4 linked regions of the Homo sapiens genome follow. The protein of the gene in region 4 interacts with the protein of the main gene of each other region in a pairwise test. Each region holds a gene or a part of one and is shown on either strand. Other genes may lie near its edges. The genes, in order: PFKFB4, TFIP11, SPATA2 and CCDC102B.

What was found.
Region 1: the proteins of CCDC102B (region 4) and PFKFB4 interact in binary tests that used the Homo sapiens proteins (3 or more experiments, as listed by UniProt).
Region 2: the proteins of CCDC102B (region 4) and TFIP11 interact in binary tests that used the Homo sapiens proteins (3 or more experiments, as listed by UniProt).
Region 3: the proteins of CCDC102B (region 4) and SPATA2 interact in binary tests that used the Homo sapiens proteins (3 or more experiments, as listed by UniProt).

The regions. Positions count from the first base shown.
Region 1 is NC_000003.12:48,539,803-48,546,836, forward strand, and holds part of PFKFB4 (6-phosphofructo-2-kinase/fructose-2,6-bisphosphatase 4), read right to left. Parts: intron 3,845-7,034; coding exon 3,778-3,844; intron 1-3,777. UniProt on the Homo sapiens protein: Synthesis and degradation of fructose 2,6-bisphosphate.
Region 2 is NC_000022.11:26,495,474-26,502,473, forward strand, and holds part of TFIP11 (tuftelin-interacting protein 11), read right to left. Parts: intron 6,580-7,000; coding exon 6,427-6,579; intron 4,159-6,426; coding exon 3,631-4,158; intron 3,503-3,630; coding exon 3,396-3,502; intron 1,417-3,395; coding exon 1,248-1,416; intron 844-1,247; coding exon 600-843; intron 1-599. UniProt on the Homo sapiens protein: Involved in pre-mRNA splicing, specifically in spliceosome disassembly during late-stage splicing events. Intron turnover seems to proceed through reactions in two lariat-intron associated complexes termed Intron Large (IL) and Intron Small (IS).
Region 3 is NC_000020.11:49,912,520-49,919,897, forward strand, and holds the start of SPATA2 (spermatogenesis-associated protein 2), read right to left. Parts: upstream 3,011-7,378; 5' UTR 2,861-3,010; exon of another isoform or gene 2,511-2,860; intron 1,184-2,510; exon of another isoform or gene 973-1,183; intron 443-972; exon of another isoform or gene 1-442.
Region 4 is NC_000018.10:68,801,073-68,808,106, reverse strand, and holds part of CCDC102B (coiled-coil domain-containing protein 102B), read right to left. Parts: intron 1-7,034. UniProt on the Homo sapiens protein: During interphase, forms fibers at the proximal ends of centrioles to maintain centrosome cohesion. During mitosis, dissociates from the centrosome following phosphorylation to allow centrosome separation. Contributes to CROCC/rootletin filament formation.

The sequences.
Region 1 (7,034 bases), on a different chromosome or scaffold from region 4:
GGCCCTGGGGAAGGAAGGGGCCAGAGTGGGCCCTGAAGTGGGCAGTGAGGGCCGCAGCACAGGCTCTCTGGGGACTGGATTTCTCATAAGGACCAGCTGCTGCCAGGTCCACCTGCCTGGCCAGTCTCCTCCAGACTTGCAACGGCTGGGCTGGCCCTCCCCTTCCTTGGAGAGAATGCCCCAAGGAAGTTAGAAGGAGAGGATGCCTGTGCTCCCAGCAGGGGAGCAGACCCGTGGCACAGAAGAACCTACTCAGTGCTGCTCTGCACACAGTGGGCACTCAGTTTGTGTTTGACCAACAGGAATTGCAGTGAAACCAGTTAAACCTAGTAAACTGAACCTATGTTTATTTCTACTCCATCCTGACACCCCAGTAAAATGGGAACAGAAGGATAAAGAGAAAAAGAGATGACAGGAGAAAAAGGAGACAACAGGAGATGGAGACATCAACACAATTCTGTCAGAGAGATCCACGGTGACGGACTCAGAGTCATGTAGGAAACCAAACACAGGTGCTGGCCAACCAGAGCACACCACCTGTGCAGGACCAGAGCACTCCAGAGGGTGCAGTGGCATTGCTAAGAAAAGGGACAAAGGTGGGGACGAAATGGGAGGACTAGCTGGCTGATAAAGAAGAGCTGGAGGCCCAGGCCCCCTTCCCAACCCCATCCAGCCAGGCACTGACCCATCTGGAGCTCTTTGAGAAGTACCTGGGGCCTGCACAAGCATCCTCTGAGTAGCCTCCTGAGTAGCTGGGACTACAAGTGTGCACCACACCTCGGTTACAGCATCATTTTTTTGTTTTTATTTAAAAAAAATTTTTTTGAGACAGGGTCTCACTCTGTCGCCCAGGCTGGAGCGTAGTGGAGCAATCATAGCTCACTGCAGCCTCAACCTCCTGGGCTTAAGTTATTCTTTCGCCTCAGCCTCCCAAGTAGCTGGGATTACAGGCATGTACCACCATACCTGGCTAATTTTTTTTTTTTTTTTGAGACAGAGTCTTGCTCTGTCGCCCAGGCTGCAGTGCAGTGGCGTGATCTCGGCTCACTGCAACCTCCGCCTACTGGGTTCAAGCGATTCTCCTGCCTCAGCCTCCTGAGTAGCTGGGATTACAGCTACTTGTGCCACCACGCCTGGCTAATTTTTGTATTTTTAGTAGAGACGAGGTTTCACCATGTTGGGCAGGCTGGTCTCGAACTCCTGACCTCATGATCTGCCAGCCTTGGCCTCCCAAAGTGCTGGGATTACAGGGGTGAGCCACTGTGCCCAACCACATCTGGCTAATTTTTTTTTTTTTTTTGAGACGGAGTCTTGCTCTGTCACCCAGGCTGGAGTGCAGTGGCGCGATCTCAGCTCGCTGCAAGCTCTGTCTCCCAGGTTCACGCCATTCTCCTGCCTCAGTCTCCCATCTGCCTCCTGGGTTCAGGCCATTCCCCTGCCTCAGCCTCCCGAGTAGCTGGGACTACAAGCGCCTGCCACAACGCCCAGCTAATTTTTTGTATTTTTTTAGTAGAGATGGAGTTTCACTATATTAGCCAGGATGGTCTTGATCTCCTGACCTCGTGATCCACCCGCCTCAGCCTCCCAAAGTGCTGGGATTACAGGTGTGAGCCACCGCACCTGGCCCACACCTGGCTAATTTAAAAATTTTTCTGTAGACACAGAGTCTCGCTATGTAAGCTGGTCTCAAACTCTTGGGCTCAAGCAGTCCTCCTGCCTCAGACTCCCAAAGTGCTGGGATTACAGGCATGAGCCACCATGTCAGCCCAGCATCACTTTTTTAAAAAGGGCATCCAGCCAGGGCTCACTGGACACTCCAGCAAAACCTTTAACAAGAAAAACAGAAACTAAATCAAACAAACAAACAAAAAAAGAAATTTGGGCCGGGTGCAGTGGCTTATGCCTGTAATCCTAACACTTTCGGAGGCTGGGGCAGGCAAATTGCTTGAGGCCAGGAGCTTGAGACAAGCCTGCTCAACAAGGTGAAACCCTGTCTCTGTGAAAAATACAAGAATTAGCCAAGCATGGTGGCACGTGCCTGTAGTCCCAGCTACTCAGGAGGCTGAGGTGTGAGGATCACTTAAGCCTAGGAGACAGGCTGCAGTGAGCTATGATTGAGACACTACACTCCAGCCTGGGCAACAGAGCAGGACCATGTCTCAAGGAAATAAAAAACAACAACACTCATATACTTGTAAGATAATGTTGAAGAAGTCTTTCTCAAAACAAACAACCAAAAAAAACAGAGAAAATAAAGAGAAAGGCTGGGCGTGGTGGCTCACGCCTGTAATCCCAGCACTGTGGGAGGCAGAGGCAGGCGGATCACGAGGTCAGGAGATCGAGACCATGGTGAAACCCCATCTCTACTAAAAATACAAAAAATTAGCCGGGCACAGTGGCGGGGGCTTGTAGTCCCAGCTACTCAGGACGCTGAGGCAGGAGAGTGGCGTGAACCCAGGAGGAGGAGCTTGTAGTGAGCCGAGATCACGCCACTGCACTCCAGCCTGGGTGACAGAGCGAGACTCCATCTCAAAAAAAAAAAAAAAGAAAGAAAGAAAATTAAGAGAAAAAAGATAAAATCAGAATCTCAGAATCAAGCTAGCATGTAGCCACCAGAAGTTCTAGAAAAAGCAGCTCAGAAAATGGGAGTAGGGATGGAGTGAGTTGCCAGAAAGGGGCAGAGGTGATTTGTCAAAGAAATAATACATGACAATTTCCCTGACCTGGAGAACAAGAGTGTTATGATGAAAAGGGGCCCCCTAGGACCATGTATGGTGGAGAGAAGACCCACCACAAACCACATCACCTTGAAGACCCTAAAGGCCTCCCAAGCGGAAGGGGCATGAGAAACTCTCAGCTCCCTCTAAGAGATGAAGCTTTTAGGAAGATCAGCAAATCAGAATGACATGAGACTTCTCCACAGCCACACTAGAAGCCATAAGACATCAGAGTGATGTTGTAGAAGTTCTAAGGGAAAAGCACTTTCCACCTAGAAATTCTATACCCAACCATCAAATGTGAGGATTAAAAAAAGACATTTCAGATGTGCAAGGTCTCACACAATTTACCTCCCCAAGCACCTTTCTCAGGAAGTTACTGGAGGATGTGCTTCAATGAAACAAATCAGTAAGTCAAAGAGAGGATGATGTGGGATCCACAGGCAGAACATTCAACCCAGGAGAGAGAAGGGCAATGGCTGTGCTACAGGCACAGATTGTAGCTGGGGACAGAGAACTCCAGAAGGCATGACTCCAGGAAGAAGAAGGAAGGGAAAGAACAGCCCCTGTGTTTGACTATATAAGGCTGGGGTAGAGCCGTTTCCCACAGACACCCCAGTTTAGCCCTGTTCTGCTCTTCCGTCTGACTAGAAGGGCCAACACACAGGTGGAATCCCCTTAATCCAGGATTCAGTGGGTTCCTACAACAACCAGTAATGCTGGGCAGGATTCTCCCCACACCAGGAGAAATCACATTTACTAAAGACTTAGGCAACCTGATACCTGTAACTTCTGGGGTGGCCAAGAATACAAGCATCCAGAGGGAAGTCCTGCAGGGTCAAATGCGGCCACCACATGCCCAGAGGGAAACTCCTGGCCCATATCCAGTCTCTGGCTTCCTCCTGCATAGCTGTTGCAGACTTCCTCCCAAGGGCTGGCACCCAGAGCAGCTGGGGCACACACACCCTGCCTTCCCCTCCAGATGCCTGACGAGCAAAGGCACAGATGTGGATGGGCTCCCATGTGTCACTCCCAGCTGTCACCAGGGTGTCACACTCACCGCCACATGTCCCCCCTCCTCACTAAGGAACCGCCGGACGTCACGGAGGGCTGCCAGGGCACACTGCCTTCAGGAGAGAAAACACAGGGTCAGCCCAGCACCCGACCCTGGCTCCAGGAGGGTGGCCAGGGACACACAACAGGAGGAGACATGACAGGAGAAGGAACAGCCCCGAGGTCTCTTGCTCTCTTTTCAAAGTTTCCCTTCTCTTTCCTTAGGATAATGTTCAGTGTTTGGCTAACTCTGCTCCTGTGAGGTGGAAGGCTATACACTCTTGGCTATTAGGAACATTTTTTAAGCACTACGTTTCTGTATTTTCCCTCATCCTCTCATTGTGCACAAATCCATGCTGTCATTGTGCCACATTCATGATTTCTAATTGTCATATATTTTCCCTGATTATCAAAATAAGCCCCCCCCCGCCCGCCTTTTATTTATTTATTTATTTTTTTTGAGACTGAGTCTCGCTCTGTCACCCAGGCTGGAGTGCAGTGGTGCGATCTCGGCTCACTGCAACTTCTACCCAGTTTCAAGCAATTTTCGTGCCTCAGCCTACTGAGTAGCTGGGATTACAGGCGTGCACCACCACGCCCAGCTAATTTTTATATTTCAAAATAAGCATTTTTAAAAGCAGCCGTTTTCTTGTGTGCATGTCAGGAGTTGGTGGTGGGGATGGGAGGAACACTAGGGCTGGCCCTCGGGCAGTGTTAGGCTTAGTGCTCAACTTTCTTTCCTGAAAGAGAGTTCCCCAAACCACCCCTTCTGAGGGAGGGTTCTGCATCTCTTCTTCTATCATATCCATACCCTCCAGAATGGGAATCCCCCACCTATGACCAAACACTGACTATACAGTTTTCAGATCTTTTTTTTTTTTTTTTTTTTTTTTGAGATAAGGTCTCGCTCTGCCACCTAGGCTGGAGTGCAGCAGTGGGATCATGCCTCACTGCAGCCCAAACTCCTGGGCTCAAGCAATCTTCCTGCCTCAGCCTCCAGAGTAGCTGAAACTACAGGGATATGCCACCACACCTGGCTAATCTTTAAATTTCTTTTAGAGATGGGGTCTTGCTATGTTGCCCAGGCTTACACAATCTTTTTAAGTTCTCAGCTTTTTCATTTATTGCTGCAAAGTGGATTGACACAGAAGGTTTGTTTTTTTTTTTAGACAAGAGTCTTACTCTCTGTTGCCCAGGCTGGAGTGCAGTGGTGCAATCTCAGCTCACTGTAACCTCTGCCTCCCAGGTTCAAGCAATTCTTGTGCCTCAGCCACCCAAGTACCAGGGATTATGGGCACGTGCCACCACATCTGGCTAATTTTTGTATTTTCAGTAGAGATGGGGTTTCGCCATGTTAGCCAGGCTGGTCTCGAACTCCTGACTTCAAGTGATCTGCCCACTTTGGCCTCCCAAAGTGCTGGGATTACAGGCGCGAGCCACTGCACCCAGCCAGGATTATTCTCATCAATTTATCCTATGAGGTCTGGAGATAGATAAATTACCTTTTTATCTATTATCTTCCCTTTTTCTATGTAAGGGTAAAGCTAGATCTCCTAGCTTTGTGTTTTTTGTTTTTTGAGACAGAGTCTCACTTTGTTGCCCAGGCTGGAGTGCAGTGGCATGATCTCAGCTCACTACAACCTCCACCTTCTGGGTTCAAGCAATTATCCTGCCTCAGCCTCTCGAGTAGCTGGGATTACAGGCATGTGCCACCACACCCAGCTAATTTTTTGTATTTTTAGTAGAGATGGGATTTCACCATGTTGGCCATGTGGGTCTTGAACTCCTGACCTCAGGTGATCCACCCTCCTCAGCCTCCCAAGTGCTGGGATTGCAAGCTTGAGCCACAGTGCCCAGCCCTCCTGGCTTTGTTGATCTTTGGATTTTGTGTTTAAACTCCCAGCATGTCAAAGTCAAAGGGCTCTCATCAGGACGATATGCCTGAAATACAGCGGCAGAAGCTGATCTGAGAACCACAAAGAAATCAGTGGTAGAGCTGAGTCCAGGGCACTGAAAAGAGCTCTACTCTTACGGCTCCTTGTGACATTTCTTTTCTTTCTTTTGTTTTTTTTTTTTAAGAGACAGGGTCTCACTATGTTCCCCAGGCTGGTCTTTAACTCCTAGCTTCCAGTGATCCTCCCGCCACAGCCTCCCAAAATATTGGGATTACACATGTGAGCTACTATGTCCAGCCCTTGTAACCATTTCTGTGCCCCAATGGGTCTTCCAGTTAAAGCCTCAAAGTGCTTTCTTCCTCATGCCAAAAACATCTGAATTCTGAGAGTCCAGGTAACTGGCATTGGTAGGGACATTTCTCCTTAGAGCCCCACGTTCTGGGCTAAGATCTCTTTTGTGGGCTGCTCTGGCCATGACACCACCATGCAGGAGAGACCTCAGGGCCCCGGTGGAGATGCTGAGGGAAGAGCCTGGGAGCCTGTGTGTGTGCGTGTGTGTGTGTGTGTATAAGAGAGTGCAAATGGGGTGAAGAGATGCATATGTGCATGAATCCACACGTGTGGGTGGTTATGTGTGTGTTGTGCCCAAGTGTGTACATGTAAATCTGTGAGTGTACCTGTGTGAGTATTCCCTGGGCCCATGTATGAGCACAGGTGCACACACACGAGCGTGCACAACCCCTGTGTGCGGTATGTGACTAAATGGGCACAGGTATGAGTGAGTGTGCCCACATGTGTGCACACAGGATGTGTGTGCATGCACCCATGTGTATAAGTTTGTGTGTGTGTGTCCAAGCATATACAGAGTATGCATGTGGGGGTGACCATGTGTGTACACATGGTGTGTGTGTATACATGTCTTCATGTGCCATGTGACTGTGTGAGAACATATGCGATCATGCTTGGTGTGTACATGTGCACAGATCCACATGTGCATACAGGTGAACACAAGCGTATATGTGCCCACACACATGACTCTGAGGTATGCATATGTGTGTGCACCCACCTTCATGTGTAGTGGGTGACTGCATGTGTGTGGAAGAGTTAACACAGCAGGTATGAGAATGGTCCCCTTCGAAAGGCCTGCTTGTGAGGTTGGCCCTTGGCCAGGGTTGGGGAACTTGATGGTAAACAGTTCCCTCTAGTGATATGAAACTTTCCCTGAATTATAAGAGGAGCTCACTGTGCATAGACTGTTTATACAAACAACATGGTTTATGTTGATTATCTGCTTTCCTTCTGGGAGTCTGGAATTTTGGTACATGCTAGGCACAGGGTGCCTATATGACCAGCCCCCAGTAAAAACCTT
Region 2 (7,000 bases), on a different chromosome or scaffold from region 4:
CCATGTTGCTCAGGCTGTAATCTGCTTTTAAAGGTCAAATTTAAGCTCCCGACATAGCGATTCTTAAAATATATATGTGTATATATATACACATATATATATGTGTGTGTGTGTATACATATATACATATATATGTGTGTATATACATATATGTGTATATACATGTGTATATATACATGTATATGCATGTGTGTATATATATACATATATGTGTGTGTGTGTGTGTGTATGTATATATATTTTTTTTGCTAACCTGGAAATAACTCCCTAATAATTTAGAGTAAAATACCACAAAAATTTTAGAACTCCAATGGCTGTCCTATTACCAGAAGCCAAAACCAATCGGGAAAACCACAAGGCACAGAGTCCGATATTGTCACTGTCGACTATTAGTGACTGTTGTAAATAAACAGCGGAAAGGACCCAAGTTACATTTATGTTCAGCCTCTGAACAAAATGTTACCTTTTTCACAGCAAGGAATATTGTGTACTAAGCACTTTCATGAACATAAAGGCGATGCTTTAAATCATCACTGCTAACCACAGAAACCAGGGCACCAAAGCTGCTGGGCTTGGAATGCATTTCCCCTTATCCTTACCCAGCTTGGGCACTATGTTTTTGACCATGAATGCTTCCCAGGAGCCAGGAGTGAAGACATCCTTCCAGGGCTGGAGGATGAGCTTGGCAGAGGAGTCGCTGGGGTGCCACTTCTGCAGGGCGCTGGACAGCTTACTACGGATGGGGGAATAGAGTGGCTCCAGCCGTGCCTGCATAAGGGGCAGCCATGGGTGGATCCAAGAGTGGATGGGAACAGTGTCTGTGAGCGGGTTCCAGTTTTCCACCTGCGAAGTGGGGAGGAGAAACAGTTCATGTCGCCTGTGGGGCAGTCACATAACACCCCTGTGTGGCTAAAGGCAAGAGCTGCCCCTGGAGGAGGCCCTGTGCTCTCTGAGGCCCACAGTCCTTTGTACATTGCCAAACAAATATGCCCATCCATTTGATTACATCTCAGAAACAGCACAATTCTAATTTTAGTGACAAAATCAAGAAAATGAATTCCCTCCTGAGGGTGGCTTGGGGGAAAAAGTGCTGAGAAAAAGGCTGGAATTAACACTATAGGTCAATAGTTGTGTTGACAAATTCCGTTAATTCCAGGCGTTTTAACAGCACTGAGATAATGAAGCCACAGACTGAACAAGTCCCTGTGATTAGTGATGACGACTGTTTCCCATGACTCTCATCCCACCTCCTTTTGCAGCTTGGGGAAGATGAGTTGGTCCAGTATGTTATCTAAGATCCACACAGGAATAATGTGCACCCAACTATCCAAAAAGTCCACCATCGGGTCACAGTTCCTTGGCTGCCACTGGGTGACAATATTTCGAACAAAAGGCATCCAGACTTCCCATATCAACCTATGGGAGAAAGGCAGAGGACAGGCTGGTTAATTACACTGACTGGTTTCAAAGTACACCACCACCACCTGCCTCTCTAGAATCAGGAATAAAAATGCAACAGCATGGAAATCCAATCAGAGGAAACCATCAGGCCAGTCACCATACTGGCCAGACTGAGCCTGCCTCTTCCTTGTTCTCTTGACTCTCCTCTCAATCTGAGGCCTCAGTCTCCTAGGTAGTGCCCATCCACCTGGCAGAGCTGCTTTAGGGTCACAAGGGCCTCTTCCCAGGTATCAAGTGCTTTCCCACCTATAGGCTTCTATTCATGAGCTGATGCCTCTCACCCTCTTATCACAATTTCAACGTCACCTCCCCTAAGACCTCTGTGCCAACCCCCGTTCCAAGTAGGTTGCTCCTGCAGTTCTCTATCGCTGTACCTGGTGTGCATCCTGCCTTTATTTGTTCACTACCTTACTTCCCATCTGCTTTTTTTGCTGTACTGTAGACAGAGGCTGTCTGCTGTGCTCCTAGGGTAAGCCCAGCACCTAGCACAAGCATGATACGCAACAGACATTTGACAAGTGTCAGCTGAATTCATGGCCAAATGTAATTGTACAACCACTATGGAAAACAGTGTGGAGATTCCTTAGAGAACTAAAAGTACAACTACCATTTGATCCAGCAATCCCACTACTGGGTATCTACCCAGAGGAAAAGAAGTCATGGCTGGGCACGGAGGCTCACGCCTGTAATTCCAGCACTCTGGGAGGCCAAGGCAGGCGGATCACGAGGTCAAGAGATCGAGACCATCCTGGCCAACATGGTGAAACCCTGTCTCTACTAAAAATACAAAAATTAGCTGGGCATGGTGGCGAGCGCCTGTAGTCCCAGCTACTCGAGAGGCTGAGGCAGGAGAATCGCTTGAACCCGGGAGGCAGAGGTTGCAGTGAGCCGAGATCGTGCCACTGCACTCCAGCCTGGCGACAAAGCAAGACTTCATCTCAAAAAAAAAAAAAAAAAAAAGTCATATACGAGAAAGATACTTGCTCACACAAATTTACAGCAGCACAATTCGCAGTTGCAAATATGTGGAACCAACCCAAATGCCCACCAATCAACAAGTGGATAAAGAAACTGTGGTATAAATATAATGGAATATGACTCAGCCATAAAAAGGAATGAAATAATGGCATTCGCAGCAAGTTGGTTGGAATTGGAGACTATTATTCTAAGTGAAGTAACTCAAGAATGGAAAACCAAACATCTTATGTTCTCACTTATAAGTGGAAGCTAAGTTATGAGGATGCAAAGGCATAAGAATGACACAATGGACTTTGGGGACTCGGGGAAAGGATGGGAAGGGGGTGAGGGATAAAAGACTACAAATTGAACCAGGCACGGTGGCTCACGCCTGGAATCCCAGCATTTTTTTGGAGGCCAAGGCGGGTGGATCACGAGGTCAGGAGATTGAGATCATTCTGGCCAACATGGTGAAACCCTGTCTCTACTAAAAATACAAAAATTAGCTGGGCGTGGTGGCGTGTGCCTGTGATCCCAGCTACTTGGGAGGCTGAGGCAGGAGAATCGCTTGAACCAGGCAGTTGGCGGTTGCAGTGAGCTGCGATCACGCCACTGCACTCCAGCCTGGTGACAGAGTGAGACTCCATCTCAAAAAAAAAAAAAAAAAAAAGACTACAAATTGGATTCAATGTATACTTCTCAGGAGATGGGTACACCAAAATCTCACAAATCACCACTAAAGAACTTACTCATGTAACCAAATACTACCTGTTCCCCAAACCCTATGGAAATAAAACATTTCAAAAAAATTAAAAAAAAAAAATTCATAGCCAAATGAATTTAAATTCCTAAAGCACTGTCAGCATGAGCAGAGAATTAATCAAGGCCAGCACTGCTGCCTTCCCCCACCTTCAGCAATCCTTCCCAACCCCCCAGGAGAAAGGAGCTGGGGTACAGAGCCCTGCTCTGTGGTGTACCTGTGAAAGGCATCTGCTGAGAGGTCCTGTCCGCCATGGGACAAGAGCTGGTCATTCTCTAGGAGGCTTTTCCACTTAGAGATGATCTCGGTGCCATAAGTGCAGTCCTGAGGAGAAAGGTGAGCAGTTGAGGGGCAGCGGGCTCTCCAGCCCTCCCTGCCCATTGAACCAACTCATCAAGCAAGGGTAAGCCCAACCGAGAGGCAGGGATAGGTTGATTTTCCCAGCAACTCACTTTGAGGGGATCCCACTCCTTGAAGTACTCCTTCATGAGTGGATAGACGATGGCCACAGCAAGGTCCACACGGTCGGACATCCTGTACTCCTCATAGTACTTGTCCTGCAGGGTTTCGAAGATGCGGGCACACTCGTCCAGGGTGAGGGGGTTGCTGCAGTCGGGCTGCATCCGCCGCTCGCACTCCTCCACCATCTCCAGGACCTTGCTGAGGTTCGAGATGACCCGCTCCTCGTGGTCCAGGACCTCGGTCATCTTCTCCAGCTCGTGGAAGAGGTTGACCACCATGTCCCGCTCATACTGTAGCTGCCGGTCATTCTGGATGATCTCCTGCTCCGTGAGGTCGATGAGCAGCTGCAGGTTGTGCTCCAGCTCGGGCAGCGCGAAGCCGGGGGCCTTGGCCTCTTTGCCAGACTGTGGCAGCTGTTGGGACTGTAGCGGCAGCCCATCATCGGGAACGTTGTGCTTGTGGCTGATCTGACTGTAGCTGTAGTAGACCTTCTGCTCCCGGCCTGTCATGTCTATGACCTTGGAAAACATAGAGGGATGAAGGTTAACACCGCTGCAGCCCTGTTAAACACACAGCTAAGCCCAGGGGAAGGCCCCATGACAGGGGAAGTGTGTAGAAACCACATTATTCAACAGAGCTGGAGAAGGGCAGTGTTGTAAAGTGGGAACCATACTGTCCTAGCCTAAAGGAGACTCCAGGGACAAAATCAGATGCAGCAAGCAGTTCTAGGTTGGATCACTGTGAACAAGCCAGATGGAGAAGACTTTTTAGGGAAACATGAAATTTAAATAGGGACTGAGTATTAGTAGATGTGAAAATTTATTTTAATGGAAAGGTAGAAGCTGTACTGATCAAAGAAGGTAACATACAATCAGAATATCACATTTTGATTTAAAAAATGCACATAAGCATAGAAAAAGATCTAGGATGTATAACAAGATGTTAACATTTGGTAATCTTGGAAGGATGGAAAATATTTTCTACATTTTTGCCTATTTCCTAATTTTCTAAAATGTACTACACACTGCTGTGTAATAACAAAGTTTTTTTAAATTTAATTTATTTATTTATTTTGAGACAGAATCTCGCTCTGTTGCCCAGGCTGGAATGCAGTGGCACGATCTCAGCTCACTGCAAGCTCCGCCTCCTGGGTTTAAGCCATTCTCCTGCCTCAGCCTCCCAAGTAGCTGGGACTACAGGCGCCCGTCACTACACTTGGCTAATTTTTTGTATTTTTAGTAGGGATGGGGTTTCACTGTGTTAGCCAGGAAGGTCTCAATCTCCTGACCTTGTGATCCGCCTGCCTCAGCCTCCCAAAATGCTGGGATTACAGGCATGAGCCACTGCGCCCAGCCTTTTAATTTTAAAACAAAATAAAATATACAAAAGGCTAACTGAACAAAGGCAACCTAGACAATGAGCTAATTCCAATATTTTAGGAAAACAGGAAATGTGAATACGGACTACACTTCTGAAACAGAATGATTCATCACCACTTTTTAAGTAAGAGTGTGATCCATGAACCACCAGCTTTAGACTCACTGGAGGAAAAAAAAAAAAAGAGTCCTGAGGTTCAGTCTAGACTCAATTCCTGGGAGGCACCTAGACACTCTTATTTCTTATCAGGTCGTCCAGATAACAGCACGTTTGAGAACCCCACTAAAGGCTTTCTTTGAGGTCTATGACACACTACATATCCTACAGCAAATGACAACAGGCAACTGTCACCACTGTTCTTTGACTACTTGGAAAAGTAACGGAAAACTTTTTTTTTTTTTTTTTTTTTTTGAGACGGAGTCTCGCTCTGTCCCCCAGGCTGGAGTGCAGTGGCACGATTTCCGCTCACTGCAAGCTCCGCCTCCTGAGTAAATGCCATTCTCCTGCCTCAGCCTCCCGAGTAGCTGGGACTACAGGCGCCCACCATCACATCCGGCTAATTTTTTGTATTTTTAGTAGAGACGGGGTTTCACCATGTTACAGGACGGTCTCGATCTCCTGACCTTGTGATCTGCCCGCCTAGGCCTCCCAAAGTGCTGGGATTACAGGCGTGAGCCACCATCCCCAGCCAAGTAATGGAAAACTTAATACACTACATGGACGTAACAGTGGCTGAAAATTTAATCTATCTTAAAAAAAGAAAATACTCAATGCTGGCTAAGGAGCCCTGGGGACTCTCTCCTGCCCTCCTGGTCAGAGAGAGTTAATACAACCTTCTGAGTATTTAAATGCCTTAAGTACTTTTGTATTCAACATGGTGATTGCACATGTACATGTCTATCCTTAAAAAATGTCTGAAACAAAGACAAAGTTTTATATACAAACTAACCAGCCAAAAACCCAAACTAAACCAGATAAAAGCTAAATGTCTAACAACGGAGGTAGGATCAAATAATACAGCACAGCCACTCTCTGGAATTACGTGCTCATTATAAACACTTTGCACTGAGTTTTTAATAACAAGAATGTTATTAAATTCACTGATGTAAGCTCCAGAAACACAGGAACATCATTTGGTTTACCAGTGTAGTGCCGTGAAGAGTGCCTAGCAGAGAAGGAACTTGGTAACTATTACTAAATATGGGAGTGTAATGAATAGGAACATGATATTAATACTATGTGAGCATGTTCCTATTCATTACACTCCTATAAATAAGTGAGAAAAGCAAGGTACCAAAAAAAAAAAAAAAAAAAAAAGCCTAGCTAAAAGATCCAAAAAACCCTCGAACATGTTCAGTGATTATTTCTGGGGTGTGGATCCTGTACCAGGTGTCCAAGGGCCCCTGTACCTTGACTTGAGAAAGTTCCTTCTGGGGAGCAGTGAGCTTCTTGCTAATCCTGCCCTTGGCCTTCAACTCTTCCACGGTCTTGTAAGAGTATTTGGGCTTCTTCTTGCTTCCACTTGGGTCTTTCCTCCACTGGCTCAGCTCCTTCTGAAACTCCTGAACCAGAAGAATACAGTCAGATGCAGCAAGGAACAACCACTTTTTACCACAGGTGAGGTAGCTGAGACCATTAGCAGATGTCACCATTCACTGTCTTAGATTTATTTACAAGCTCTATATGAAGGAAGGAAAGGATGCACCTGCAAGACACCAAAACTATCTAATGATACTCCTTGACCCCATTCGCCCTCTTACAAATAATGAGGTTCAGAAGGCAGGTACACCAGATGGGAGGGAGAAACAAAAATAAAGATAAACGAAACAACATTTATTGAGCATCTACTATGGGCAGGCACTATACTACTTTTAAATGTACCTCATGTAAAACTTAGAAATGCAATGTAAAGGATTTTTTAAGCACACAAAACCTTGTTTCTAACTTTAAAATGAAGATAAATAAGCAGGCCCTAACTCTCAA
Region 3 (7,378 bases), on a different chromosome or scaffold from region 4:
GAAGCTGCCATCACGCCTCTGGCCCCAGGGTCTGTTTTTTGGTAGTCTGAGAACCATTCAAACACAGAGACATTAAGCTTCCGAATACTGCTGTAATTTTTCTCCAAGGAAGTCAGCCTTGAACTCAAAGAGACTGATTTTTTACAAAGTCAGCCAGTCTCAAGCTCGGCTCAGCGTCTGCTGCTCTATAATCGCACCACAGTCCACACCCTTGTTTGTTGCTGAAAAACAATAAATAAAGGAAAGGGATCCAAACAGCCCAGCTGATGTTCAAAATACTCACAATAAGGACAGGAAGCCTATCTAAAACAAATCTCAAACCAACCTGGGTAGGTGAGGGAAAAGGCGGAAGAAAGTAAAAGCTAAAAGATAATTAAGGGCAAGACAAGCCTGGACAACATAGTTAGACTCCGTCTCTACAAAAAAAAAAAAAAAAAAAATTAGGTGGGTGTGGTGACACCCACCTGTAGTCTTAGCTACTTGGGAGTCTGAGGTGGGGGGATCCACTGAGCCCAGGAGTTTGAGGCTGCAGTGAGCTATGATGGCACCACTGCACTCCGGCCTGGGTGACAGAGCAAGACCTTGTCTCAATCAGTCAATAAGGAAAGGAAAGAAAGAGACTAACAATTACTGAGGTTCTACTATGTGCTAAGCATTGGGCTTCCCACTTTACCTACATCATCCCATTTAATCCTCACAACTCTATAAGGAAAACAGGCTCTTCCCATTAAAACAACCTGCCCAACAGAGTTTGAAAGGGTCAGAGCTGGAATCTGAACTCTTGCTGGGAGGCCCTTGATGCCTGGGCTTTCTCCAATTTACCTCACTCATTTATTGTTACATCAGTACCATTTACCAAGGGATTACTGTGTGGCATCCCTCTGCTAACTGCTCTGTGAAAACCAATGAAATCCACAGGATAGATCCAAGGTTAAAGAGGAAACTGAGGCTCGGAGAGGCCAACTCACTTACCCTAAGTCGTAAGGCTAGGAAGAAGTGGATCTGAGCTCTGAACCTAGGTCTAACGCCAAAACTCCGACTCTTGCAAAGCCATCCTGCTGCATCTGCTGGACAGCTCTACTCGAAAGTGTTTGGCTAAGTTAGAATGCCTTATGGCGGCGCGAGCAGAGTTGAGTTACAAAAATTCCTGTAGTAGCAAAATTCCCATCTTCCCACACCGAATGGGGCTAGGAGAGCTAATCTCTATATGATGTAAGCTCAAGGGCCAAGGAAAGAGGCTGGTCAGAGACATCGGCCAGTGATGAAGCAGCTGACATCATCCCTGCTGAAAACATTTTCTGAGAATACAAGATGCCTTGTAGCTGGTCATAGCTGGTGTTTTTTCTGAGCACAGAGCCAGCAATTCATTCCCAGCACTCTGCAAGAACAACAAAATACGCTCTCTGCAAAAACATCGTGGTTACAGGAGACCGAGACAGCCCAGCGACAGAAGCTGCTAATTTCTCCAAGCAACCCAAGGATTGGAACGCCAAGCCGTGCCAGTCTGGTGGAAAAAAAAAAAAAAAAAAACCCAAAAAACAAAAAAACAGCACTGTGAATATCCTGAACACAGAGACAGGCAGGTGCCCAGAGTCAACGGCTCCAGTCAGCACCTCCTGCACCCACAATCTAGGTACCTTCTTGAAAAGCAAGTCAATGGAAAAAGAGATATTGCACAGTCAGGGAGCCAGTGGCTTCTTTAGTTATTTTTTGAACATCTAAGAGGAAAGCTGTATCTGTTTAGAGTCCCACTGCATGGAAGTGAAGTGATTCCGAGTAGCTAAGCATTAGCTTGGCTTTACCTCAGCTGGCCCATTCAAGCAGAAATGTTCCCCAAGCAGCATTTGAAGGCGCCCCCTCTCTGCACAGGCAGACCTATTTTGGTCTGTGCACTGCCCCTGTCCACAGGTTTACACATCCCTGGTCTAGCTCCATCAGCCTCCAAACAGGAGACGGGGAAGTCAGTTCAACCCCCTCCACCTCCCCACCCACACCAATGCACTCGTTCCAAGCAAGAGGCTCCGAGAAACATCCAAGGCACCTTCCACTGGCTGTGAAACACCAGAAGGTCCCCACACTCCTACTAGATTCCAAAGAAATTCACACAGAGTCCTTCCAAACCTCTGAAAATAACCTCAGCGGTGCTGAAAGAAGCTTCCCTAGTGGCAGCTGCCTCTCTCGGAGAAGCTCTGAAGGAAGCTGTTTCCCTCCCTGCAGGGGACAGAAGCTGGCGGCTGCTAAGTCCCAGCTCGGTCATTCCTACAGCCTCGGGGGGCCACGTCAGTTGTGAAAAACAGCCCAGTCTCAAATTCTGGCCCCCCCTACGGCTTCGTGAATTGAATGAAGTAACAGGAACTATCACTTATTGGACGCCTGCTGTATGCCAGAGGCCCTGCATGATCTCATTCCATCTCCACTCCAGCCCTAGCAACCAGGTTCAATCACTTAAATAGGCAACTGAGGCTCTTAAGATGAAGTGACTTATCCAAGGTCACACAGTGAGTACAAACCCAGGTGTGCCGCCAGAGCCTGAACTGGGAACCCCTGCGCGGTAACTGCCTCGTGGCGAAATCGGGGTGTCCTTCTGTTTGGCCAGTCGCCGAAGAGGGGTGTTCCTCTTGGGCGGCCCTGAGCCACCCTCGGCGGGTCCCAGGAGCCTGCGAGGCAGCTCCCGGGAGAATGGGGGTCCTGAGGATAGGCTGGGGGTCCCGGGAGCGCCGAAACAGCGGGCCCACCTGTAGTCCTGCCTGCCGTGAGGGTACCCCGCTCCCGGGCCAGCCGAGCCCTGCCGCTGTCTGGCGCCCCCTCCGCCTGGGGAAGCCCCGAAGGCAGTTTCCGCCCGCGGCCGCCCGTCACTCACCCTGACACTGCCGCCGAGGACGGCCCGGCCGAGGGAAGCAAGCGAGAGGCGCGGCTGCCGCCGGAGCCGGGCCCCGTCGGGCTCTAGCCTCTCCGGCCGGCTGCAGGGGTACTGAGACCAGTACCCGGGGGCCAGCAGCGACCCGGAAACACTCGGCCCGGAAATGATGTCACCATGAGGCGGGCCCGAAGAGAGGGTGGACCACGGCTGCGCGCTGGCTCCGGGAAGCGGTCGATGCCCGCGGCCGACGGAGACTACAACCCAGAGGCGGAGGACAAAGCGGAAGGCCGAAGAGCGAGGACGAAACCGGCGGAACCGCACTTTGGAGCCTAACGAGCCATCGCTGCGTCTGAGACTGGGACCCGGAAGTAAACAGGCCGGACGTGACGCAAGCCGCTCGGCCTAGGGATGGTGGCTGGCCGGGTTGTCATGGAAACCGCTCAGGAGCAGGGAGCTGGGAGCTATGAGTGCTGACTGCGTGAACTCGGCCTCCACTTCCCGGACCTGCCACTTATCATGATCCACGAGCTGTACTCATGACTCCGCACAAGCAAGCAGGGGCTGACGGTCGGATCCCTCGCCCCCATTTTACGGACAGAAGTACCGAGGCTCAAAGAGAGCCAGTGAGATGCTGAAATCACGCGTGATTGGAATCCAGCCTTGCTAGGGCTGCGGGTGTTACGGGCCGTGGGCGGCGGTTAAGAGCGTGGGTTCTATTTTTAGTTTTGCCACTTACTAGCTGTGTGACCTTGGACAAGTTACCTAACCTCTCTGAGCCTCAGCTTTCTAACCTGTAATATTAAATAATAAAGCCAGGCGTGGTGGCACGCGACTGTAGTCCCAGCTAGTCGGGAGGCTGAGGCGAGAGGATGGCTTGCTCCCAGGTGTTCGAGACCAACCTGGGCAACATAACGAGGCCACGTCTCTTAAAAAAAAAAAAAAAAAAAAAAAAAAAAAAAAGCCGGGCACGGCGGCTCACGCCTGTAATCCCAGCACTTTCGGATAAACTATATATATATATAATCTGACATCCCCACCAGACCCTGAGCTTCTTATTCATCTATTTCCCCCCGAGCTCTGCACATGTCTGATGAGGAGGCACACAACAGATGTTCATTGATTGTAGGATTCTCACTCTGAGTCTTGGTGACCCCAGCTAAAACCGGTGGGGCTTGTGTGATGAGTCAGTGACACAATACTGGGAAACGTTTGGAGAACCAGCAATCTGCTGCTGTCCAAACAGTAGCATTACTGTGTTTACCTGTCGTTGCCTGAGCACCGCTCAAAGTCCCTGTGTTCTTTATCAGCTCATGTTTAAGCTCCTCTCTTAATTATCTGCAATGTGATGATGTTCACAGGAATTCCATCTGAGACAAACTGTCCCACCTTAAGTCTGCCTCTTACAGCAACTCAGCACTCTGGTTTGGTAGCTCTTACAATATTGCATTTTCACGTGGGGCTGCTTAAAAAAGTCCCCTCCAGCTCTGTGGGTCTATGACAGGCAAAAGAGAAACAAAGATTTTGAAGAAGGGCTTTACCAGTAGGAAACCCTGGTCATCATCTACTATCAGAAAAGACCCAAAGTCTCCAAAGACAGTCACATTTCTCAGTTTTTTTTTTTTTTTTTTTTTTTTTTGAGACGGAGTCTCGCTCTGTCACCCAGGCTGGAGTGCAGTGGCACAATCTCAGCTCACTGCAAGCTCCGCCTCCTGGGTTCACGCCATTTTCCTGCCTCAGCCTCCGGAGTAGCTGGGACTACCGGCACGCGCCAACACGCCTGGCTAATTTTTTGTATTTTTAGTAGAGATGGGGTTTCACCAAGGTGGTCAGGATGGTCTCCATCTCTTGACCTCGTGATCCGCCCACCTCGGCCTCCCAAAGTGCTGGGATTACAGGCCTGAGCCACTGTGTCCGGCCATGTTTCTCATCTTTTAAACACAGTTGAAGGCTTGTGATTTCTCTACTTGGTGATGTAGAAATGACAGGAGCGTCCTTTCCCGACTTTATTATATAATGATTACCAGATTATGTAAGGGTCACGTGACAATGATTAGGCACTTCTACTTCCGAAGAGCCAACAACACGAACAATCTACCTACCTCTTTCTATTTTTTAGTTTTTTTTTCCATCACCAAAGTAATACATGATTCCAACAATACAGAGGAGTATAGAACAAAAAGCAAAACAGAAAAGCTACCCCATGACCCAGCAATTGGATTTCTCAAAATCTGCTAGAGAAACATACACTGTGCCCAAAGAGACCTCTTGCATCATTGTTTCTAATGCAAAAGCAATAATAGGAAATATTTAAATCTCCATCACTGGGGTAATGGTATATCCATACTAACAAATACTGTGGATCACTTAAAAAGGGTGATGCATGGCCAGGCGCGGTGGCTCACGCCTGTAATCCCAGCACTTTGGGAGGCCGAGGTGGGCAAATCACGAGGTCAAGAGGCCGAGACCATCCTGGCTAACACAGTGAAACCCTGTCTCTACTAAAAATACAAAAATTAGCCGGGTGTGGTAGCAGGCGCAGTAGCGGGTGCCTGTAGTCCCAGCTACTCGGGAGGCTGAGGCAGGAGAATGGCATGAACCTGGGAGGCAGAGGTTGCAGTGAACCGAGATGGCACCACTGCACTCCAGCCTGGGCTACAGAGTGAGACTCTGTCTCAAAAAAACAAAACAAAAAAAGTCAACTGGGGACAGGAACACAGATACAGATATCTGTCTTTCATTCCACAAACACACATTTATGTGATCTGTATTAATATCTTTCTCCCCCAGAAGTCAGTGAACTCCATGAGGACAAAACTATGTCTGTTTTGTTCACAATTATATTACTACTACCTGACATATATGCACTACCTAGCATGCAATAGGTTGTTCAACATAATTTGTTTCTGACCAGAATTTTCACTGAATACCTACCATGTGCCAAGTTTGATGTCAGATTTTTTTTTTTTAATTGAGACAGGGTCTCTCACTCTGTCACCCTGTCTGGAGTGTAGTGGCATGATCATAGCTCACTGCAGCCTCAACCTCCTAGGCTCAAGCGATCCTCCCACCTTAGCCTCCTGAGTGGCGGGGACCACAGTTGCACACCACCACATCTGGCTAATTTTGTTAACTGTTTTGTAGAGGGAGGGTCTCGCAATTTTGCCAAGGCTGCTCTCAAACTCCTGGGCTCAAGTGATCCTCCCACCTTGGCTTCCCAAGGTGCTGGGATTACAGGCATGAGTCACCATGCCCACCCTGATGTTAGGTTTAAAGGGCATAACTGTGAGTGAGACAGACACAGTTCCTGCCCTCACAGAGCATCCAGTCTCCTTAACCGAAAGAGAATATTCATAACATAGGAGTAGGATTAATAAAACCCTAGAATTCAGGATAGAAGATGGTAAATGATATGAGAGGGGTATAGAGCTTAGAGCATGGAGAAGTGACCTCTGACAGGGTAAATGAAGGATAGCCTCCAGGAGGAAGTAGCATTTGAGCTGGGCTTTGAGTGACCTGGACATGTGAGGCTGTCCAGCTTTCCTTCCAGCTGGAGTAAAGGGAGCAATCAAAGGCAAGGACCTGAGATCAAAAACTCGGCTACCTGTGGCTGGGCTCAGTGGCACAAGCCTGTAATCCCAGCAATTTGGGAGGCCGAGGCAGGCGGATCTCCTGAGGCCCAGAGTTTGAGACCAGCCTGACCGATACAGTGAAACCCCATCTGTACTAAAACCACAAAAATTAGCCAGCCTGTAGTAGTGCCCACCTGTGGTCCCAGCTACTCAGGAGGCTGAGGCTGGAGAATCGCTTAAATCTGGGAGGTGGAGGTGGCAGTGAGCCAAGATCACGCTACTGCACTCTAGCCTGGGACACAGAGGGAGACCCTGTCTCAAAAAAGCAAAAACAAAAACAAAAAACAAAAACACAAACTCAGCTACCTGCAAGCACATAATGTGGGCAAATACGAGGTACTAGAGTACTATAGCCTCACACTGCGTAGGACCAGAAATGAGTAATGTAATCTAACATGGTACCCGGCTCACAGTAGGCATCCAATAAGTACTTCAGTGAGAAAACAAATATTGTTGAATTCCTTCCATGCTTCAGCTGACTTGTGGCCAAGATCCCCACTCACCAGGAATGACCAGATACTCTGATTTTTGGAGAGGAGTTAGAGATCCAGATTGTTTGTTTATTTATTTATTTAAAGATAAGGTCTTGATCTGTCATCCAGACTGGAGTACAGTGGCATGATCATGGCTCACTGCAACCTCAAACTTCTGGACTCAAGGGATCCTCCCACCCCAGCCTCCCACACAGCTGGGACTACAGGCTCATGCCATCATGCCCAGTTAATTATTTTCTGAAGACGTGGGATCTTGCTGTGTTGCCCAGGGTGGTCTCAAACTCCTAGCCTCAGGTGATCCTCCCACTTTGACCCACCAAAGTGCTGGGATTACAGGCACCAGCCACTGCGTCCAGCCTGGAATCCAGATTTTTAAATAAAATTTCTTAATTATA
Region 4 (7,034 bases):
TGTTGATTTCACTGGGAAAGTTACATCTATAATATGAAACTTATAGATGAGTTTGTAATCTTGAGAAGGAAAAGACGTGGAATCTTAAGAAAAAAAAGTTAGCTTTTGATTCGAAGATTAGTTGCTCAAATCCTAGTGAAACGTTCATCCCTGCTCATATTTTCTCCATGTTAGCCAAAATAAATTAGTAATTTATTCAGACATAGAGGCCACCAACTCTGCAATCATCTTTTTTTTTAAGTGTTTATATTTCTGGTTTTCATCCTTTGACATAGGAGAAGGTAGCAATAAAGAAAATAAAAAATTTAACTAGAAAGTAGAATCCTTAACACAACTGCTGATTGATCTGGGATCCGTTTTCATTTGTTTCCTTTCATTTTTGCATAGTTGTTTGTCTTAGTAAAGACAAGTAAAGGAATTGGATTAAAAATGTCAAAATAACAGGAAGTGAATACTCAGTGTTTGTATTTCTCAAAAGATCTGTCTTTCCAGTCCCTAAAACAGAAAATGGACGCCATGTGCAAGGAAAGCTGCAAAGAGTGGAAGACCAGATTAAACTCTTACATTTCTCAAAGCTTGCTTGGTTTTTATTTTGCCTCCCAATCATGTAATTATTGTCTTCAACTCTTTCCCAAGTAATTCCTGTAACGTCATATCTTAATTCTTCCTCAAAAACTCTATTTTTTCCTTGTTTTTCTTAAATATCTCATGATTTCCCAGATCTATACATTGCATTTAATTTATAAAAAAAGAGAAAAAGTACTAAGAATTGTGTGGACTCCTAAATTGAGTTTTATCATTTTTATCATTGCCTGATTTTCACACCTGTTAAATTTTCTTAAATTAGTAAATTTTCTTAAATTATAGCAAGCAGAGAATATATTGGTCCCAGTTGTTTCTAGAGGCCACCATCTTTAACATACTTCTCAGTATCAAAATAACATAAGTATGTAAATATGATAACATGAGAGCTATAGTAGAACCCAGAGAACACTGGTTCAGAAAATGTGAGGTAAATTCTCTTCCTTGATAAGGTCGTTCAAACTCATATGTGTTCCCCCTTTCAACAAGGAGATAAATACAATGCCTGAAATGTATTCTATGGTTGCTATGAAGATATTTTTGAACCGTTTATATTCTGGAGTATTAAACCTGTGCTGTCTTAAATGGTAGTCACCTATCAGATGTAGTTAGGGAACGCTTGAAATGAGGGTCGCCTGAATTGTGATGTTCGGTGAGTACTAATTAAACACAGCATGAAACGTAAAAATGTAAACTATCTCATTAATAACTTCATACTAATTACATTTTGAAGTGATATTTTTGAAAGATTGGATTAAATCAAAAATATTATTAAAATTAATTTCACATGTTCATTTTTTAACTTTTTAAATGTAGCTACTTTAAATTGCAAATGTTGCTTGAATTATATTTCTATTGGACAAAATAGCTGTAGAGCATCCAATAGACTTTAAGAGCTTCTCTTTTTCCACAGAGAATTTTACAGAAATAGAAAACTGCATTCTGATTTTTTTCAAACATGTTCAGAATGTTTTGGCAATATTGCTGTCTCTAACACCTAGAGGTTTCCTAAATACAGGAAATTAAGATAATTACTAATAATATTACTTGCAAATATATGCTTGAAAAACATATTCTACTGATAATAAAAATGCATACCAAAGTAGCCTGCTATTCAAAGGTAAGTGAATGTGACATTCTCATTCTCTTCCACATGGCCACATAATACAGAAGAGGTGATGTTGCAATAATCATACAAAAATAAAATGAATATCATTTTAAAAATTGGATATGTTTGCTGAGCATTCTTATCTAAGCTTTGAGACATCCCATTAAAATATATTTAAAGCTGTTTAGACAACATGGGAAAAAATAATTATTAATTTTAAAAATGTATGTCATTGTTAAAACAGCAGTTGTAAATAAAAACCTAAAAATAATATTAATTCATGTGTTCTTAACATTATTAATACATATAATTTTATTTTTATCCAAAATTTTGGCAAAATGATAAACACATAAAAAAATTATGGGCTTGTAATCTGCTGTATTTGAAGGCTTCTTTGTCTTGCTTTGATCACTGGCTGAAGATTGCTCTTTAATACAGTCTGTAGGACTGATCAAAATGTTACATAAGCAGAGAGAAAAGTAAATGAGATCACTGACAACACTGTAGAGTCTTGGCATGGGAATGGGTATTAACATTTATATAATGAAACCAATTATGTTAATAGGTTAGGAGAAGTTGAATATGTTTTCAGGGACAAGAAAAATTTTCATGTCCAAAGTATTTCATATATAGTGTCGTTACAACATCCTCACCTCTCAGTTCCTATTAATTCCAATAATATGACCTCACCCACTCACTGGCTGGTTATGCACCTAGATCCCATTACCATACTAGCATTTCTTTCCATATCAATGATAAGCACCTCTCTGATTACCCTTTACTATTGTCCCCATAACTCTCTTTTTTGACCTAGCTATGGCCTCCTGTCAATGGACTGTATTGTTTTTTCTCTCTTCCTCATCGGCTTCACATCCACTCTCTCCTCCCTATTCTGTGCTCCAGTTTTAACAAATTGCTCTGAGCAAGCTTGGCATTCTCTTGACCCTACTTGCTTAGAAACTCTAATGTCAGTGAATCACAGCTGTCTTCCTGCTCCATGTCTGCACCTACACTCTTGATCAGGCTTTGAGAAAACACACCCATTGCTATCTGGTCTCACTTCAGTTTCTTGACTCTGAACCTCATATGGGCTTTAATGTAGCCAAGCCAACTCTACCATAGGGAAATTAATATTTTTCCCTGATTAAATCACAAACATTCTACTGAATAATCCCATACATTAGCTATCTTCAAAATTTTCATATCTTATTCAGCTCTGCCTTATCTGTTGAGATTGCGGGGGTTTTTCTATTTCACTTACAAAAGATATGTAATTATAAGACAACTGCCATCCACTGGTTCCATCATATCTATGTGTCTAATGGATACCCATATGTTATTCTGTCTGTTTTTATAGAGAATTACTCCACGTTCTTAACACCAAACTTCCCATTTGTATGCTCTATCTAATTTCCTCTAATCCGCTCCAGGACATGGCCTCCTCAAATATACTCCTCTCCTGTTTAACTAGTTTGTACCTCTCTCTAGATTAGATTATTCCCATTAGCAAATGCACATGCTATAATACCCTCAACATAAAAAAAAAAAAAAAGATTTTGATCCCAACCCAGCAGCCATTCCATATCTTTGGCATTTTCTAAAATAAAAATTATTTTAAAGACACTTTCATTTATCTCATTTTCTCTTGAAGTCGCAGTATCATTTTCAACTCTAGTTTGCCACAAAAACAGGAAATCAGTGACTTCTACATTGCAAATCTAATGGTCAATTCCAGGCCTGAAATTCCTGTTTTACTTGGCCAACCAGAAGCCCTGTATGTGATTGTCCATTTCATCATTCCCTTTCTTGGCTTCTGAGGGCATCCTCTCTCATGGTTCTCCTCCTACTCCCTGGTAGCTGCCCCACATTCTGTCTCAGCTTCACACCTCTGACTGCAAGCGCTCCAACACTGAGACTTCAGGCTGGGGTAATTGCTCTGGGTGAAGGCATCCAGGCCTTTGACTTCAAATTCATTAATTTTCTGAAATTTCCTAACAGACATATCTCTGGCCTGAGATGTTCCTTTATCTCTGGGATCTCACGTGTCCAGCTGCCCACTTAACATCACTAAGGATATCTAATCAGCATCTCAGATTTCACATGTTCAAAAACAAACACTTGAACTCCCCTCACATCTACACCTGCTCCTCCACAGTGTTCCCTGTGTCAATAAATGCACATTTCACTCTTCTAGGTTTACAGACCAAACTTAGGGGTTACCCTTGATTCCTTTGTCTCTTCATTGCACATCATTGTTGGAAACTCCATCAGTTCTGGCAGGAAAATATGAAATACAGCCTATGCAGAATTACAAAAACTCCATCTCTAATATCTCCTTCAAACCACCCTGTCTCTTGCCTGGAATACTGTATGGTATCTGGCCTCCCCACTTCTACCTTTTCCCTACTCCAGTATGTTCTCCACAGCACAGCCGAGTGGATGCTTTGAACACTCAACTTATGTTACAATATTTCTAGGATCCCAACATTCAAATGACTTCCCATCAAACTCAGAATAAAGTGGTTGTAGTTTATGATGTTGTCATGATCTAAACATAAACCATCCCTGAACTCTTCATCAGGACCCATGATTTCCCGACCTGAGGCTCCTACAGTTGGGGTATGAAGAGCCCTTTTAAAAGTAAAATAATATTAGGTTGGTGACCATGTAATTGTGATTTTTCCCATTGAAAGTAATGGCAAAAAATGCAATTACTTTTGCACCACCCTAATATCTTGAAGCTTAAGCTGGATTTACTTCCTCTTAAAGTAGCTTCTGCCTGTGCCTCCCTGCCTCGCTCATTCCCAGCAGCTGCCGGCCATCTGGCCATTCCTTGAAGGGACATTCTTCTGACTTAAGACTTTAGCACATGTGATTTCCTTTATACTTCTCTTCTGCCAAGATTCCTCGTGGTTAAGTATCTTACATCCTTCACCCTAACAGAAGGGACATTCCCTGGTTATTTCAAGAGTGTGTAAATATTCTATTCCCTTTTAGCCTGAATGTTCTTTTTTTCTTCCAGTACTTATCATGACTTAATATATATTTATATACTATGTATGGATTCTACTGCTTTACCAGCTAGACTATATGCTTAATGTAAAGAAAGGGGTTTTACTTTTTATTCACATCTCTATTTCCATTGCTAGAACAGTGTCTGAGACATGGTAGACATTTATTACTAAATGGACAAATCTAAAACAGAGTGACTTAGAACTATTCCTTTTCTTCCAAAAGGCAAGCATTACAAGTTCCACTAAATAAGTCAGTCTTCTCTAAAGAAGGTGGCTTTTAGATATTAAACGCTTATAGGCTTTTAAAATTAATAAAGAAACAGTTTTAAGTGAGGTTAACCCCAATCACACCACTTTAATTGCTATCAGCAACTTCATTCTTCCAAGTACTTAAATAATTCACAAATACACCTATGATGATTATCTGTATATACAAAAGATGAAGATTTACATTTATTTGGCCAGAAATACTTTTGAAACAGCGTGGAAAGTGGATAGGATATTTGGGAGAACAAAGCCATGTATCCCTTTCAGAGATAAGAGGACCAAGGGGTTTCAAAAGAATCAGCAGATGGGAGGTGGAGTTTGTCTTCTGCACTATTTCTACTTCTGATATCGTTTTGGATAAAGATCTATGCTTCTCGAATATGTCATTTATATTAATTCAGATAAACATCCTGCTCAATAATATGGAAGAAACTTATAGCCACAGAGGAAACAATGACGGCCAACCATAGACAATGAATGGACCATGTGAGGTCCAGGACCAGAGCTTTGCATTCAGTACCTATGCTTAGGCCCCAGCCTTCTGTGAGAAGCCTGTATCTGAGATAGCCCTCCTAGTTCTAATCCATGAATACTGGAATTTCTCCCATTAATCTACATTATCAGGTCAAATTTATTTAGTCCTGATACCAAAAACATAAAATATAAAAACATATCAAAAACATAAAAGCCAGCAAGTAAATTCATATAGCATTAACACCTTTAGAGGGCACTTGTAGCACGACATAATTGCAACATCCATGTTTTTAATCCATGCAATCATAAATTCTATAACTTAAGTTTCATTATTACAAAAAGAATGAAGAAGCCTGGGCAGTATCAAAAATAGGATGGCAGGGACTCTACGTAGTTGCTTTGACCCAACTCATTCCTACCATTGACAATACCTGTAAAGTGATTTCCAAACAAAGATAGAACAAAGCTCACCTGAACCCTCAGACAATCCCTGAGATTATTCTAGCTCCAAATTAGGAACAGGTTATAACCAGAACCTTCTAGAATTATATGAAACACCAATGGATTATGGCACTTCCACATCTTTCTCTTTTTTCCTGTGCTACCAAATGTTATAATCCCACTGAGCACCTTATAATTTTCATGTTTTATTGTGAAATACATTTTCTTCTCATCCAGAGAAGAAACGCTTGTTCAAAACCCTTCATGTCAAAAGAAGATAGAAAATTCATGAATATAGGCTGACTAATAAGACTATTTGATCTTTTGCAGAGGTCATAAATGTAATCTTTCACCTAATGCCTTCACAATCCTAAATTCACTAAGGGAGGAAAGGAAAGATTGTATGAAAGACTCTCAAAACTATTTCCAAATGAAAATGAGTCTAAAGTTGCTACAGGTTTTTCTTCATGCAACTATTGCCTCTTTACCTGTGTTATATTTCCAAACGTTTACTGCAGCTTAGAAACATATGCTCCCGAGTCAGTGACTAAAAATCTCACTTTTATTTTTGGAAACTTTAATTCTACAAATTTGAAACAGACACTATGATAAGATATATTTATAAATTCTTCAGTGAGCATATGTTTTTTTTCTCAATATTAAGGACACCTTTTTCTTTAGCTACTAAAAAAATCCTTCTATCAAAATTTTAACATCAAATATTTTAATATATTTATGACACACAACAGCAATTCTTTTAGGAAATATCATTAAATATAAATCAACTTGGATAATATTTAAGTATATAATAATGTTAACAGTCCTTTGCAAAGCTATGACTACAATTAAATGGCCTTGAGCACAACCTCCAATACAATATCTAGTTTTCCATTTTACAATCAAGGTCTCAAGCTCACAATCTCCATTGAGCATCTACAATTAGTCAGGGCACTGAGGATGGAGCACTAGTTATACAAAATGTCTTCTATAGAATATATTCTTAGAATGCAACCTAAACCTGTACAAAAATAAAATCTCAAGGTCAGTGACCAAATCTTTGCATTTCAACTATCCTCATCTGTTTTCGTGTACGGCAAAAAGATACTCCTTCAGTAAAGCCTACTTAATGATAGTATGATTCTAAACTA